3 linked regions of the Homo sapiens genome follow. The protein of the gene in region 1 purifies or fractionates together with the protein of each later gene. This does not show direct contact. Each region holds a gene or a part of one and is shown in the gene's direction. Other genes may lie near its edges.

Region 1 (3,749 bases):
GCCAATCTTAAAACAACAAATTTGCTTTCTTAATGATTCTGGAGGGCAGATGTTAAAATCATCGTGTGAGCAAGGTTGTCTCCTTCCGGAGGCTCCAGGGGAGAATCTGTTTCTTTTGCTTTTCCAGCTTCTAGAGGCTGCCTGCCTGCCTTGGCTTATGACCCCTCCTGCCATCTTTAAAACCAGCAGCTTTGTCTGGGTGCAGTGGCTCATGCCTGTAATCCCAGCACTTTGGGAAGCTGAGGCAGGAGGATCTCTTTAGCCCAGGAGTTGGAGACCAGCCTGGGCAACAAACTGAGACTGTGTCTCTACAAAGAATAGACAAAAATTAGCCAGGCATGGTGGTGCATGCCTGTAGTCCCAGCTACCTGGGAGGCTGAGGTGGGAGGATCGCGTGAGCCTGGGGAAGTGGAGGCTGCAGTGAGTTGAGATCATGCCACTGCACTCCAGCCTGGGTGACAGAATGAGATCCTGTCTCAAAAAAAAAAAAAAAAAACACAACAAACAAACAAACAAAACCCCCAAAACCAGCTTCTTGCTTCTGTTGTCACATCTCTTACCTCTGACTTTGATCCTCCTGCTCCCTTTTATGGGACCTTTGTGATTACATTGGGACCACCTGTATAATCCAAGACAATCTCCCCATGCCAAAATTATGCATTTAATCACATCTGCAAAGTCCCTTCTACAACATATTCACAGTTTCCGGGGATTCGAATGTGGATGTTTCTGGGGGGTCGCCCACTGATAACCAGTATTATAAGTTTCTTGTAAATCCTTCCAGAGATATTTTATCTATAAATAAATAAATGCAAGTCCATAGCCTTCCCCTACCCACTTTTTATGCAAATGGCATTATTCCATATCGGTGCTCAGAGTTTTCCTCTTTTTCTTTTTTCTTTTCCGTCTTCTTTTTCTTTTCTTTTGAAAGCTACACAGAACTTATTCTATTATATGGAAATACCCTAATTTATTTCACCTTTTCCCTGTTGGAAGACTTTTAGGCTCCTTCCAATGCTTTGCTTTATAATCCTTTGTGTTATAATGCTGCAATGAATAACCTTGTTTGTTGGATGATATTCAATTTAAAATCTCATTTTTCAGGACAGGCATAGTGGTTCATGTCTGAAATCCCGGCCCTTTGGGAGGCCAAGACAGAAGGATCACTTGAGCCCAGGTGTTCAAGACCAGCCCTGGCAACATATCGAGACCTGGTCTTTTCAAAAAAATTTGAAAATTAGTGGGGCATGGCTTGGTGGCCTGCACTTATTTGGTCTCAGCTGCTCGGGAGGCTGAGGTGGGAGGATTACTTGAGCACAGGAGGTGGAGGCTGCAGTGATCCATGATCACACTCCTCACTACACTCCAGCCTGGGCAACAGAGTGAGAACCCATCTCAAAATAAAATAAAATAAAATAAATAATAAAATAATCTTGTTTTTCAGAAATTGGGGGTGCCATTTAAGACATTTTGAAACCTCACAGAACTTTTTTGGGGAACTTGTTGCCTTGGAGATTAGCCTGCCCTGTCCTGCCCCCATGACCTGTACTTGGTCTTTCTCCCTCCTGGCTTCCTTAGTTAAGCCTTGTGTGGACTTGCGAGCCCATGTCCATCACTCTCTGCCTTCAATTCTAGGTGCTGTGGTGTGAATACGCTTGAGTGGAGGCCGCATGCTTCCCAGGAGGGTGTGTATTTTCAGCGTTGTCTCTCATGATAGAATGAAAGGCTCTGGAGGGAATCACAGGCTGCCACAAACAGGCAAGGGGAAAAATCTTCCACAGACGCGTTTCAGGGACAACAGGCTTCCCAATCCTAGCCCATGCTGGCCCATAACTGGATCAGGCTGACTCTCCTTCCCCCACACCGCTGGTGTAGACAGGGACAAGAAAGAGAAGTCAGAGACACAGAGAAGCTGTGATTTGCTTGAGGTCACCAAAGTATTTAATGGCAGAGTTCAGACCTGACCTGAGGGGCAAGAAAAGACAACCCCCTCAAATCCATGGGGAGCAGAGACTATCTGGATCAGATCTCAGATTGCCTGGGGCTTTCACGGTGCCAGGTGTGTACACTGAGCTAGGATGGGTTTCCCAGGGTGCTGTGTGGTCACATAACTCAACAATACAGACCAGAAAGCAGTGACCAGTAGGCTGAATTTGGCTAGTGGGTGTTTTCTGTTTGGCCTGCACAGTGTTTATTTTAACTTGTTATTATAGGAAATTCAAACATGCAGAGAGAATTGTACCATCAACAACACACACCCATCACTCTGCTCCAACAATGATCAACTCAGGCCTATCTTGCTTCATCCTATACCCTCCCTCGCTTGCTTCTCTTCCCACCTTCAGATATGCGGAAGCAAATCCAGAGATTTCATTCCATTGTAAATATTTCATTGTGTATCTCTACAATGTGGGAATTTGGGGAGTTTCATTTGAGACAGGGTCTCGCTTTGTTGCCCAGGCTGGAGTGCAGTGGTGCAATCGTGGCTCACTACAGCCTCGACCTCCCAGGCTCAAGTGATCCTCCCACCTCAGCCTCCCAAGTAACTGGGGTTAAAGGTGTGCACCACCACATCTGGCCAATTTTTTTATTTTTTGTAGAGATGGGGGTCCCACTATGTTGCCCAGGCTGGCCTAAAACTCCTGGGCTCAAGTGATTGTTTTACCTCAGCCTCCCAAAATGCTGGGATTATAGATGTGAGCCACTGTGCCCAGTCAGGAACTTTTACATAATCCTTTTTGACAAAAGATTTCCCCCAAGAAATTAGAAAGTTTTACAAAAAAAAAAAAAAAAAATTCAGGTTTCTGTCTCATCTTAAAAATTTGGAAGTTCTGCCAATACTAAGCCCAGACGGTAATCATTGGTTAGTGCTGAGAAGATGTTGACTTTTTAGATGAGGCGTGTGACGTCTACTTTGCCACAGTCCCCACCACTCCCTACCTGGCCATCTGACTCATACACATCACCTGCCTGGCTTCTTTAGGCATTTAATTTGTGTAGGAAATTGACCTAAAGGAGATATTAGAGAAGACATTAAAAACTTGAAGAATGTGAAAATCAGCCATGAGATAGAACTGTGCTTTAATGCAGGTTATAGAACCACACCGGATATGAGGCATTTCGGAATAAACTTTGAAAATTGGAAGTACCAGTTTGTGAATTTTGCTCAGAGAGACCAAGGTGGGGGGTGGGTGACAGTGGTGAAGCGTCTCCTCTGTGCCAGTCTCTTCTACCACAGGCTTTTTCTCACAAAATCATCAATCATATGCAGTAGGAGAAACACCTTCCTATTTTACAGATGAGGAAACTGAGGCAAAGAGAGGTGAAATAGGCTTCCCAAGGCCACTCAGGTCAGGAGCAGCAGAGTTAGGATTCAGACCTGGAGTCGGCCTGACTCCAAAACGATGCATGCCTCACCATGGCCCATAGCTCCTTTAAAGAGGCGCGGAAGAGAGAATTTGACAAAGTGCTTGCCCACGGGGCCTGGGATGGGTGGGGAAACTACGCTGGGGCTCGGGGCTGCGGAGGGCATCTGGGAAGAGGCTCTGCTGAAGGTGGTCAGGAGGGCAAAGGTCACGGTGGCCATTGTTATATGGTGGTGGTGGGGAGAGGTGCATGCCTTCTTCTTGACACTCTCTGGTGACCCTCTCGGTGGAACCTGCAGACCCTTGATGGGCCCCTTTGTTCCCTTGGGCCTCCTGAGTCCCCAGCCAGGGCGCTGGGCACTTTGCTGGGAGCTTGGCATGGGG
Region 2 (3,749 bases), on another chromosome or scaffold:
GCAATACAGTCTACCCAGAAAGACCAGGCAACAGTGATGGGGCAGGCTGTAGTACATGAGTTTAGAATAAATTATAATTGATTTCCAGCCTACTTCCACAAAAGAATCAGAAGAAATAGCCAACAAAAGTGTCTCCCCAAGTGATTGTTACTCTCAGGAAGATTGAAAACCATGCAGAGGAAGGGGGCAAGCACTCAGGTGAGACAGATGGTGACTTTATCTAAAGAGTAAATTTAGCTTGGAGATTCCTGGCAGCCAAAGCAGAAAGAGAAGTAAGACGAGCTGTATAACTGGCATTTTCTGACAAAATGAAGCACCTGATTTATCAAAGGGAGACACTTTTTTTGTCACAAAAATCCAAAAGTAATTTTCAAAGGCTTTTCACTGAAGAGCCATTAATGTCATTAATGTAAGAGGCAGAGTGTTACTGGGTTTTCAGATTTTTCTTGGGACTCCTTCTGATCCTGAACAAGCATGGAGGGTACAGCAGATATCATAGAGTGTCCGACATGACCCCGCCTGGCTTTAACATGACACGGTGGACTGTCTTGACCTCTGGCTGCCTTTGTCCACTGTGCCATTGGCATTGACCTATGTGAATGTGGGGCTGAGCTGCTTGGCTCACTTAGCTAGTCCAGGTTGCTGGGTGTAGCAGGTGTGCCACTTTCACATGCTGTGGGAAGGAAGAACTGACTTTGCCCCAGAAACTGTCATGGGCACACTTGATTTGTTAGTTTCCTTGGGGGATAAAGAATCCACAGCACAGCACCTGCTGAGTGGTTGTTGGCTCAGAGAAAGCAATTGAAGCCTCATGCTGATAGCAAGAGATGTATCAGATACAGGAGGATGCCTCAATCAGCATTCTCAGCTGCAGTCAAGAAAAATGAATTGTGGCCTATGTAAACAGAAAAGGTTGGCGGGCATGGCCAGTGCATGGCCCAATCACACCACTAGCCTGGGCTGGTGGTGACAGTTCTGTTGCCATCTCCATCACTGGACACCATGCCAGTCCTTCTCATGTCAGAACTACATACTGCTGCCATCCAACACCAAGATGTGTGCTTTCCATTTGCTGTGAGGCCTTGAGCCAGGGCCGGGGCTGCGAGGGTAGCTGGGGTGGAGGGAACACTCAGCACCTAGAAAACGAGTGCTTGGCGTTCTGCTTGGTGGGAAGCTGGGAATGGCACCCACCGAGACTCATAAGGGACAAGAGTTGGAAAACAGGGAAGAATGAATGATAGGAGGCCAGAAAAAACAGTCGAGCTTTGGGAGTTGAGGCAGGCTTATTGAAAAGGAGCATTTCACTCCTTTTGGCGAGATTTCTCAGAGCTGGGGCACTGGCTCATCAGCCTAGGGCTGTAGGCGGAGGTTTGCCTGGGGCAAGCGGCGGGATCTGCGGGCAAGGGGGCCATTGTGTTGCTCCTGCCAGCAGTCCCAGCTCCCATTTTTCTCCCTGCTCAGTCCGACACCCACCCGTCCGACTTTCTTAGGCAACCCTAGAAGGCTCCTGGAATCCACTTCCGCTCTCCACGGCCTGGGGCTTGCCCCACCTCCCGGCATGCCCCGGGCTGCCCTGCAGGACGCCCCCCGCGCAGTGCATGGTGGGGTAGCCAGCCGGCCACCTTTGGGCCATGGCAGCCGAAGGTGCTGTGTGCGGCTTCGTCTATCTGGAGGGCACTGCCTGGGCGGTCCCTGAGGACACCGAACCCTTGGCATCCTGCACATTGGGTACTCCGGAAAGACCGGGAAAGGGACTGGGGCGTGGAGGCGATCTGGGGGCGGGTCAAACGCTGGCCCCGCCCCTCTGCAGGCCCCGTCCCTCAGTGTCCATACGTGCTTGTGCTAGGGCGCCTGCGCCCTCACCTGGATTCCCTTCACTGGAGGGAATGATGTCCCAGGTTTTGGTCACTGGCCTCTCTCTGGCTATCCCTGGGCCTTCAAGAGCATTGGCACGGTGCCATGTGAAAACTGAGTTGCAACCTGGTGACACTGCAGCTCCAAAGTGCTCCACAGAAATGATTTGGGGACTGGCTTTCTGGGAAGGGGCCCAGGCTGGGGGGCTCAGGAAGCAGGCCCTGATTGTCCCTCTCTCTTCACAGGACATGGCAACCACAGAGAGAGCAGCCCTTTTCTTTCCCCCTTGGAGGCTTCCAGAGGAATTGACTACTATGACAGGAACCTGGCACTGTTTGAGGTAGCTGAGGAGCCATTTTGGGCCACAGGTTTGGCACACAGAGGCTTTAGCTAAGCAGGCAGGCTGGACACGTGGGCCTCCTCTGTCTTGCTCTTCCTCTCATCTCCTCTTGTGTTCCTGGTTCTCATGGCAGCCGGGCTGCAGTTCCCTTGGCCCTTTCAACTGAAACTGCCTTTCCAGAGGCCACTCACAATCCCACCCCCATTGCTACCTCCAGGGTGGTTCACCTCTGACTTCCTTACAACCCCTCAGCAAGGAAACGCCCGCTTAGGATTTCCCAACTCAGGATTTCTCCTCTTCCTTCCACTCCTGGTTCTTCTCCAAGTCCATGGTTCTTCGCTCTCCCATGGATTCTTCCTTGTCTTTCTTGGTTGACCCTTCCAGCTCTGTCCCTCTCTAGTTCCCTGAGTCCTGGTCCATTTGCAGCTTTAGGGGATACGTCTCTGGAAAGATTCCCAAATATCTGCCTCTGTACTTGAGTTTTATCTTCTTCAGACTCAAGCTGAGCAGTGAGATCTGGATTTAAGACGTAGTTTAAGCTCCTAAACTCTGACCCATGCATTCAGCCACTGCATGGCTGAGTAATGGAGACTCCTTAATCTGCCTTTTTTTTCTCTTTCTTCATTTTGAGATGGAGTCTCACTCTGTCGCCCCAGGCTGGAGTGCAGTGACGCGATCTCAGCTCATTGCAACCTCTGCCTTCCAAGCTCAGCGATTCTCCTGCCTCAGCCTCCCGAGTAGCTGGGATTACAGGTGCCCACCACATGCCTGGCTAATTTTTGTGTTTTTAGAGACGGGGTTTCACCGTGTTGGCCAGGCTGGTCTTGAACTCCTGACTTCTAGTGATCCTCCTGCTCAGCCTCTCAAAGTGCTGGAATTACTGCTGTGAGCCACCACATCTGGCCGAGGCTCCTTAATCTCCACATGCCCCCAAGGGCCCTCGTCTTCCTTTCTCACACCAAAGCAACTTCTCCCTGTGTGTAGGTCAGAAAGGAGCTGACAGAGAGGGAAAAGCTAAATGTGGGCAGGAGGCAGGTAGAAGCACAGCCTCGAGAAGGCTGCAGGAGCAGGGATCATCGCCTAGACCCCGGTGGGGCTGGGGGACCTGAGCTCTGGGAGGCCTCCTGACCTGGGAAAGCAGCAAGGTTCTGCGGTGAAGGCCTTGGCCCAGCCCCGCCTGAGGATGGGCTGGAGGATCAGGATCCCATCTCCGCGATTGATGTGGGTACTTGCAGGACTGGGGTCAGGGGAAGACCATCCAGGGAGATCAGGGTTTGGGCAGACAAGGGAGACTTCACTTGTCCCAGACATCACTCTTTTGCCCTCTTTGGTTCCCTGAGGTGACTAGAGTGGCTTTTTTGTGGGGAGGGTAGGCGTGAGTCCTAGAGGTGCAGCCATAGCCAGGAGGTGGCTGGGCAGAGCAGGCAGGATGAAGTATGCCATTGCCCCCCTGCCAGCCGTGTTCTTCCCTGCCCTCTCTCCCCTGAGGCAGGTGGTTTTCACAAATGGGCTGGCAGTGATTGTAGCCAAGGCGGGGTAGAGAGAAGCAGCCGCG
Region 3 (3,749 bases), on another chromosome or scaffold:
CCAAGGGATATTTGGTGGGATATTTTTATAGTTTCCAGTAGAGTTTAAAGATAATATCTCAGGGCTGGGCGCAGTAGCTCACGCCTGTAATGCCAGCACTTTGAGAAGCCAAGGTGGGTGGATCACCTCAGGTCAGGAGTTTGAGACCAGCCTGACCAACATGGTAAAATGCCCTCTCTACTAAAAATACAAAAATTAGCTGGGCATGGTGATGTGTGCCTGTAGTTCCAGCTACTTGGGAGGCTGCAACAAGAGAATCGCTTGAATCCAGGAGGCGGAGGTTGCAGTGAGCCGAGATCACGCCACTGGACTCCAGCCTGGGCGACAGAGCGAGACTCTGTCTCAGAAAATAAATAAATAAAAATAATGATAATATCTCAGAAATTTTAAAGATTCCCTCACCCTTATTTATTTTTAGGTGAAAGAGTCCTAATATTCCTAAAATTAACCCTCTATTTTTTCCAGAAAAGAGAAATTTAGGCTCCTAGGAAGAGTTGAGGTTGGTAGAGCAAGTGTCTGTCTCTAGAGGCAGTCATTTTCTGTTTTTTGTTTTGTTTTGTTTTGTTTTTTGTCATCTTCTTTAATCTGGTGCTTTCCTATTGCAGTGATTTGTCCAAGTGCCGGGAGTGGAGGCCATCCTGACAACAGCTCTATGATTTTCTATGCCAATGACACAGGAGCCCAACAGTTTGAAAAGTGGTGGGATAAGTCCAGGACAGTCCCCTTTTATCTTGTAGGGCTCCTCCTCCCACTGCTCAATTTCAAGTCTCCTTCATTTTTTTCAAAATTTAATATCCTAGGTAAGTAGTAGCACTGAATTATGGAGACTTTGTGTAATAGAATACGTGGTGGAGTCTAGGGAAATATGGTCTGATTGGGGAGTTACCTTCCAAGCCTGTTCATCTGTGTTTAATTTGTTCATTCGTTTTTGTTTTGTTCTTTCTTTCTTTCTTTTTTTTTTTTTTTTTTTTGAGACGGAGTTTCACTGTTGTTGCCCAGGGTGGAGTGCAATGGCTCAATCTTGGCTCACTGCAACCTCTGCTTCCGGGGTTCAAGCAATTCTTGGCCTCAGCCTCCCAAGTAGCTGGGATTACAGGTATGCGCCACCACACCCAGCTAATTTTGTATTTTTGGTAGAGGTGGGATTTCACCATGTTGTCCAGGCTGGTCTCAAACCCCTGACCTTAGGTGATCGACCTGCCTCAGCCTCCCAAAGTGCTGGGATTACAGGTGTGAGCCAGCACGCCCGGCAATTTGTTCATTCTTATGATAACCTGATTTTTTCTATTTTTTTTTATGGAGTTTGGCATGGAGAAAAGTGTAGATGACCATTTTTGGTTTTGTTGTGTGTGTGTGTTTTTTTTTTTTGAGACATGAATTATTTGGTTTCTCATTCTAAACTTACTGAACAATTCTTCCTCATTTTCTCTGAGGATACAACTAGACGAAATACACGAAAATTTCAGGAGGAGAGATCCAAATTGGATATTATAGGAATTCTTGATTCTAACGGTTGGAAACAGAACTTACTAAGGAAAGTTATAGAATGTTTTTTCCTACAGTCTCTAAGAGTATTGTGCAGAATTGTCACCTGACTTTGAACCTGGGAAATCATTCTCTATCTCAGGCTTCGTAGGTTTATTTTGCTTTTGCTCTCTTCCTCAGTGCTTTTTTTTCTTAGAACGCTATTGCCTTCTTCAAGGAACAGACCTCTTTCTGTGAGCCCTGCTTTTCAGAAACCACTAAACGAATGTTTTTACTCCACTTAAGATGGCAAAAGGGGCCAGGTGTGGTGGCTCACGCCTGTATTCCCAACACTTTGGGAGGCTGACGCAGGTGGATCACGAGGTCAGGAGTTCAAGACCAGCTTGGCCAAGATGGTGAAACCCTGTCTCTACTAAAAATAGAAAAATTAGCCGGGCGTGGTGGCTGGTGCCTGTAATCCCAGCTACTTGGGAGGCTGAGGCAGAGAATTGCTTGAACCTGGGAGGTGGAGGTTGCAGTGAGCCAAGATTATGCCACTGCACTCCAGCCTGGGTGACAGAATGAGACTCTGTCTTAAAAAAAAAAAAAAAAAAAAGATGGCAAAAGGAACCCCCCCAGTGAAAGTTCAGATCTGGCTAACCAAGGACAAGGATATCATTCATAAGGAATCGATAACTCCACATAAACCATACGATTTCACTTCCTCCCTGTGGATGTGATCTCTGGCAGGCAGTCTAGAGCATAAAATAGATAGGCTGGGTGCGGTGGCTCACGCCTGTAATCCCAGCACTTTGGGAAGCTGAGGCAGGCAGATCACCTGAGGTCAGGAGTTCGAGACCAAACTGACCAACATGGAGCAACCCTGTCTCTACTAAAAATACAAAATTAGCCAGGCATGGTGGCGCATGCCTGTAATCCCAGCTACTCGGGAGGCTGAGGCAGGAGAACTGCTTAAACCCAGGAGGCGGAGGTTGCAGTGAGCCGAGATCATGCCATTGCACTCCAGCGTGGGCAACAAGAGCGAAAACTCTGTCTCAACAAATAAATAAATAAATAACCCAGCATATCAAGGAACAAGGCAGTGGCTTCTAGGTTTCCAGAAGACCAAAGGAAAAGTTAAAATTATTTCTCTTTGCCTGTCTGCCTCAGGAACAGGATTCACTGTAAGCTGCCATAGACACACAGAAGATGAAGAGTTGTGGTTATATAAGCTCTGGCGTCCTGTTTTCATCCTTTCTGAATCAGCTAATCTCCAAACCCACAGTACTGCTTATATCGCTCATTCGTGGTTTCCTGATTTGCTTGCCAACTTTTCTGTGAAACAGATCTTTTAAAAGAATATAAACTTATAGAAGGATTTGCTCAATTGGGCACAACAATCACCAGACTTCCAACCAGGTTGATTGTTCATTCTTCAGCTCCTTAAGGATATTCTGCTTTTGTTCTTTTCCTTGGTACTTTCCCTTTCTCTTAAAACCATAGCTTCATTAGAGGAATTAGCATCTAAGGCCTTCCTGAATTTTCTGACTCTACTCCATAATGACTAGACTTAATTTCTTAAAAGGAATAATCTTCTACCTTCTACACTACTAAAATATTCTGAATGCCCATTTTACCTTGTATATAATACCTGAGAATGGAGTCTGGAATCTCTGTCTAGCAAGTAGTGCTACCCAGTCAAAACCTCATCTAGATACTAGATCAGGATTGTTCATGTATTTGGCTTCTCACCTTTCTCAAATATGCTTTTGATCCACATTCACTGCTTTTCTTTCTTTACCCTCTTACCATCTCACATTAAATACTGTGACAGACTGACTCTAACACTTCCAATTCAAAGAATAAAAGTAAGTTTCATGTTGTTTTTTTCAATCCTATGTAATCCTATAATTTTGTAATGGACTCTCTGCTTGTATCTTCTGCTTAAACTCAACTCATAAGTAAATGAAGCAGTTTTGCATTCAGCATTGTATGAGCTACCTTCATCTGATTCTTCTTTTCTTATTCTTTTTTTTTTCCTTTGAGATGGAGTCTCGCTCTGTTGCCCAGGCTGGAGTGCAGTGGTGCAATCTTGGCTCACTGCAAACTCTGCTTCCCGAATTCAAGTGATTCTCCTGTCTCAGCCTCCCGAGTAGCTGTGATTATAGGCGTGTGCCACCACACCTGGCTAACTTTTGTATTTTTAGTAGAGATGAAGTTTCGCCATGTTGGCCGGTTTGGTCTCGAACTCCTGACCTCAGGTGGTCTGCCCACCTCAGCCTCCC

Evidence for each region.
Region 2: the proteins of LGALS9C (region 1) and SLC12A4 purify together in Homo sapiens (affinity purification with mass spectrometry; 3 studies listed by BioGRID and IntAct, with this or other methods). This does not show direct contact.
Region 3: the proteins of LGALS9C (region 1) and SLC38A9 purify together in Homo sapiens (affinity purification with mass spectrometry; 3 studies listed by BioGRID and IntAct, with this or other methods). This does not show direct contact.

Annotation. Positions count from the first base shown.
Region 1 is NC_000017.11:18,479,731-18,483,479, forward strand, and holds part of LGALS9C (galectin-9C), read left to right. Parts: intron 1-3,749. UniProt on the Homo sapiens protein: Binds galactosides.
Region 2 is NC_000016.10:67,961,910-67,965,658, reverse strand, and holds part of SLC12A4 (solute carrier family 12 member 4), read left to right. Parts: intron 1-1,606; exon of another isoform or gene 1,607-1,631; coding exon of another isoform or gene 1,632-1,728; intron 1,729-2,099; coding exon 2,100-2,194; intron 2,195-3,749. UniProt on the Homo sapiens protein: Mediates electroneutral potassium-chloride cotransport when activated by cell swelling. May contribute to cell volume homeostasis in single cells. May be involved in the regulation of basolateral Cl(-) exit in NaCl absorbing epithelia.
Region 3 is NC_000005.10:55,649,580-55,653,328, reverse strand, and holds part of SLC38A9 (neutral amino acid transporter 9), read left to right. Parts: intron 1-605; coding exon 606-800; intron 801-3,749.